Regions from separate parts of the Homo sapiens genome. Here region 1 is linked to region 2. The links come from fine-mapping of genetic effects on gene expression. Tissue or cell type: whole blood. Region 2 holds a variant in brackets; the other region holds the start of a gene. All regions are shown on one strand. Distances are between the middles of the regions.

Region 1 (2,760 bases), 53 kb after region 2:
ATTCTGCAGTCTTTGCCCAAATCTCTATTTAATTTATGCCAAAGATGAAAGCTAAAATTTTAAACACGAAAAAGGCAGAAATCCTATTTATAGCTAGTGTGTTCCTGTGATCTCTCCGGTGACTGTTTCTAGCTGTGGCAGCGGACGGCCGGCCCTTCCCAGCCTCCTCGCCGGCAGGTCCCCGCTCACCTGTACAGGTCGTAGCCCGCGGCGCGCGCGGAGCCCCGGGTGGGGGCCGTGGCGTGCTCGGAGAGCCGGGCAAAGCGGAGCTGCATGCCGCCCACCTCCGCAGGCCGGGCCCGCTTACTGGGTGAAATGGCGGGTGTCTCTTCAGAGCAGGGCATGGCAGAGCCAGAAGGCGAGCGAGGAGACCACCGGGGGAAGAGGAGAGCGCACGATGAGCGTCGCCGCAGGGAGCGCGCCAAAACCGAAATTTCCCGCCAGCCCCGCCCCACCCACCGCCCCTCCCCGGGACGAGTCCACAGTTCTGGCTGAGAGGGGAGGCGGGATTCACATTTTGGGTTTGAAGCCCTTCTCGGAAAGCAGGTTTGGGATGGGAAACTACTGGGTCCCAGTCAACTTTCCACATTCAGCGCGTGGGGCCAACTTTGAAGGGGAGCTTCTAGGGCGTCGCCCTCACACACTAGAAAGCCGCCCCCTCGCCAGGGGACCCTAATGGACCACCCCACCCCCCCCGCCCCCCGCGCGCAGAAGGACCGCTCGCCACCCTACTTCCCCCACAGCCTCAAGCCGCGTGGATTCCTTCCAGACGGCCGGAGCCCCTCCCCCGCCTTTCCTACCCGGCCCCGGCGCCGGGCTTCCCCCCGCCTTAGGAAGCTCGCCCTTCCAGCCAGCGGCCCCGACTGTACTGGCTCCGCGGCAGCCTTGGCTCAGGCGGCCAGCGCTGGACAGCGGCCGGGGAATCCCGTGCTGCGCGGCGCGGCCGAGGGGCGGGCCTGGCCCGGAGAGTACCGCGGCTTCGGCCCTCTGCCGTGCGCCTCGCGCGTTTTGCATCGCTGAGCGAAGCAGAGACGTAAGGAAATGGTAGCAGAGCGCGGGGCGAGGGCAGAGGGGAGTCATTTCCCCCAGAGTTTGGGCTGGTTGGGTCCTCGGCACCTCCGGACGTGCGCCAGGCTTCCACCCTGAAGACGCGCCCGTCCTGGGAACATGACCTCGGAAGCAGTCGCAGCCGCCGCCGGACGAGGGGCGTGGAGAGGCGGTGCCCCGGCAGCCCAGGGATGGCGCAGGCCCTGGGGCCCCAGGAAGACGGCGCCGTTGGCGTCTTGAGTCTTGCTGCCGCCTCTGGCTGCCTAGCCCTCTTGCTTTCGCTCTTCTTGTTTGCTCTGGCCCCCATTTTTCCGAGAGTGTACGCCAGGCCCGGGCCCTGCTCCTGGACTGATTTACCTGGGGCGGCACCGCCCGCAGCCATGACTCCCGGGCTCTGAGTTTAGCGGCGCCCTAAGCGCCGGAACCGCATCTCGGCGCCGGTGACAGTTATTGCGCCCGGGGCCGCTCCCCAAGCTGTGGGCAAGACACCGCGCCCGATTTCCTTTCAGCACCGAGTGTCAGACGTTGTAGTGTTTATTCGACCGGAGGCAGGGAGGGCGCTACTATCCTATCACAGGTTTGGGATAACCCAACAGAAACGCAGTGGGAACCCCTTGGCTAGGAGTCGAACAAGGATCCCGGGTCGTGGTAGTATAGTTTACAGTGGGGGATAAAGCAGTAACTTTCTAGATAGTTGTTAATAATTTTTTCTGAGCTGCAAGTATCTCCTTATTTCTCACAAAAATCTGCGAGCTGAATTGAATGGTTTTGAATTTTCAAAATTAAAAAAGCTGTGGGGCAGTTTTAGAGTATTATTGGGGAAATTTTACATTCGTTGCTATGCCTTTCCATACAGGCCCCCCCTTTTCGGTCTCCTTAACTGGTTCGTCTTCGTAGTTGGAATTCCTTTGCATGAGGCTATGGAATATACACTACCTTCTCTGGACGTTAACTATTAGCTACAGCTTGAGGACTCCCAAATTTATGCCTTTAGCAACACGATCCGAGCCCTGCAACTTTTCGACCTCATTTTGAGCCAACATTATTTTGCTCCCTTATTTTGTTGAAGTACTTTCTCCAGTTATTTACTTAAAATGTTCACATGAGAGACATACTATTTGATTCCTTGCTTGTACTAAGATGTAATGATTGTAACGACTTCATTTTCCTAGACCCAGATAAAAGTCTCGCTTCATTCATGAAACTTTTTACAATCAGTAGTGACCTCTGCCCCATCTTATCTCTTTTAACACTTACTATATCATTCATTAGTCGTTAGCCATATACTTTCATTGTGTAATCTTCTGATGTATATGCATTTTATCTCTCACATGAATTAGAGTCATAAACTTTTATGAATTCTTCAAAGCACTTACTTCAGTGTTTACACAAAAGTTACTTGTTTGGCTTATTACAATATCTAACACCAAGCAGGTTACCTTCTATTTTTTGTTGTTAATCTGTATACATAAAGTGTTTATTGTTACTTTTCAGCTGAGTTTATTTTAGACTAAAAGAGAAACGGCCATAATCTAACTGGCAAAAAGTAATAGGATTCTGAGCCAGTAAGCATTTAATAGAACGTTCTTTATGACAATAGAAATATAACTTGTTATGAACATACACCTTAAATGCAAGATACTGCAGTTAAGAACTAAACATGTTTCAACCATAATTTACTTCATAGTTTTTGTTTTTTTTTTTGAGACAGAG
Region 2 (2,760 bases):
CTTCAGTTTCTGATCCCAGTAATTGAGGACATGTGTTACTCTGCAAACAGTCCTGATGGGAAATGGGTGGTGGTTCTTCCCCTCTGATGCTTGGGAAATGAGAGGGCAAAGGAGGGGAGTAGAGAGGAGGCTGAACACTTTTATTTTTTTTTATGTTAACAGCTCTAAATGATTAAGGGTAGGAAGGGAATGGCAATAGAACATAAAAATGCTTTGTGTAGAGTTCACATTTACTCGCACTTTTAACTCCACTGTGGCTTATTAGTTCACGGGAAAAATTACAAAAGGAAATAAAAACCTGACTATGAATCCAGTATAAACAATTTGCAGCCATAGTAACCAAGAAAGTGCAACTCCTAGATTAAAAAAAAAAAAATGTCTGTGCAAGAGTGTCCATGCAGAGGATGTCAGGAAATGGTTACAGAGTGAAGAACTCAGTCAACCCCTGGTCAGTGAAGCAGAGCAGCTCTGAAGAGGCTGCGTGCATACCCTGCATACCCTGGCTAAGATGTACATCAGGAGTTGGCAAAGTTCTAATTCCTATTTGATAGAGTTTCCAACTCAGCTGTAAATATTCACTCAAGAATAAAACAACGTCAAAAGACTTTGCCTGACAAGAATTTGATTTTTGTTGTTGTTGTTTAAATCAACTTTGGTTTGCATGAGTTCAACCCAACTTCACTGCAGGAAGACAATAGGGTGTGCGGCTTCTTGTGTGTTTCCACATTAGCTTTGGAATGACTCGAAGCCGCCTTGTGAATTCAATTCTGGATAAAATACAGCAACTCAGGACTCAGAACCACACCCTATCTTTTCACCTTTGGGATATGAGTCATCAGCTTCTAATTTGTGTAGCCAGATCCTAGCAATGTATGGCCCCAGGATCTGAGAGGAAGTCCAAGCAAGTGCCAGTAGTTTTGGAGGTCCTGGGGCAATCACCCAAATGGGAATTGTGGGCACCTATCCCACCAAGCTATCAAATTTGAGAGTAAAAGCATCTTTAAGGATCATCTAATCCAATGAGCCA[T/C]ATGATGCCTGAATTCCCTCTTTTCCTCTTTGTGCCAGAGGACGTTCATCCCATGCTTGGAGCCCCACCCTTTGAGAAGGAGAGCTCCCCAAGGCAACTAATGCAGTGTGACTGCAAAATACTCTTTCTTAAAGAGTCTGTCTCTTTGTAAATTACAACACACAGTTCCTTAAAGCAAGTCAAATATTCATATATTCGAGAATGAATGGCTATTTTGTCCTCAGATTTCTCTAGTCTAAACCATAAGAATTCTTAACTATTCTGCATCTAGTTACTTCCCTCTGAACACCTCCGGAGGACCTCTTGAAGTTCAGTCCCTCATATGAACACAGCACTCAATGTATATTCTGTTCAGGGAGAGGAACCAACACCATTATCAGTTTCTTCATTCTGAGATTTTACTTCTATTGACTTTGTTTCCTATTTATCTGTTTCTTAAAGCCTGTGGTATTTTGAACTCATAATTAATTTACTTCCCACTAGAATTTTTGACTAGGCCACGCCCTTGGTCACCAATCACCAGTTCTGCTCTACTCTCTGAGCACATGGAAGTAGTACACTCCCCTGCCTCTTGAAGATAGCTATGGTCATTGTGACAGAATGCAAAATATATATTTTGTCTCTGCCCTTCTTTCCTGGAATACAGTTCCTAAAATCCTTAGAATCTCCCAAATGATAAGTGTATTTTGTATGCTAATGAGATGACTGGTGGCTGGGGTTCCTGGATGGCTTCAGGATAGGAACTGGTTGCTAAAAGAACCAACCATGTGATTAGAGGATTGGAACTTGGTTTCACACCCTCTGCCTTTCTGGGAGGGGCGAGGGGCTAGAGGTTGAGTTGATCATCAATGGCCAGTGATTTAATCAATCATGCCTATATCATGAAGCCTTCCTAAAAAAATTAAGCAAAGGGGTTTGAAGAGCTTCCAGGTTGGTGAACAAGAATGCATCCACATGCTGGGAAGATGGAGCACCCCAAATTCCATGGAGACAGAAACTTCTGTGCTCGGGATCCTTTAGTGGTGCATTCTTGTAGGACTGAGGCCTCAACCTGTGGGGTCGGCACCAACTCTGGGCAGATAGTGTCAGAAATGAGTTAAATTGTAGGACACCTAGTTGAAAATTGGAAAAATTGGTTGGTGTGAGAAAAATCCCCACAAATTTAGTGTTAGAAGTGTTGTGAGAATAGAGAAAAACAGTTTTTTAAATAGTCATGTTACCAGCTGTGGCCAATAGGAAATGAGTAGAGTATCACATGTCAGTTCCAGGTTCAGGCACTTAAGTGCTTATTCTCATCTTTCCAGGCATCTCTTTGCCCATCCTGACTATTGTCAACCCATGTGTTGATACAGAGTTGTCATAGATTGAATCAAGCTGGAATGCTGAGCCAACACATGGAGGACAGCAGCCCTAGCACGCTGCCCAGACATGCAGCACAATTTGCTTGAGTGAAAAATAAACTGTTATTGCATTGTGCACAAGATTTTGGGATTGCTTTTGCAGTATAACGCTTTTCCAAATCAATGTCTAAGTGTTTTTTCATGCAGGGTCAGATTTACCACTCACACATTCTCCCATACCTCCTTTTTGCACTTTAGTAATTGGTTTTTGGATTTGATTTAGCAACTTATATTTGTTTTTCTCATAAAAATTAGTTTTAATCATTTCAGTTCAATGAAAAATTTGGTATTTTGATTCCATCAAACAAAAATATTCATTCTTCCCACTACCTC

Evidence for each region. PIP is the estimated chance that this variant, and not a neighbour inherited with it, causes the effect.
Region 1: DUT starts here. The variant in region 2 is fine-mapped to the expression of DUT in whole blood (INTERVAL, PIP above 0.99).

The regions. Positions count from the first base shown.
Region 1 is chr15:48,329,836-48,332,595 of GRCh38, reverse strand. DUT (deoxyuridine triphosphatase) reads right to left here and starts at 1,167. Exons shown (of 7, transcript NM_001025248.2): 1 at 801-1,167; 2 at 190-328. The coding sequence starts at 1,080. DUT-AS1 (DUT antisense RNA 1) reads left to right here and starts at 740. Exons shown (of 3, transcript NR_186809.1): 1 at 740-1,033. RefSeq lists enhancers at 390-684, 608-1,132, 1,133-1,659 and silencers at 390-684, 735-944.
Region 2 is chr15:48,382,863-48,385,622 of GRCh38, reverse strand. No RefSeq gene overlaps it. Among named protein-coding and RNA genes, the nearest start is that of DUT-AS1, 52 kb to the right of the region's middle. The variant T/C (reference allele first, on the strand shown) is at 1,028.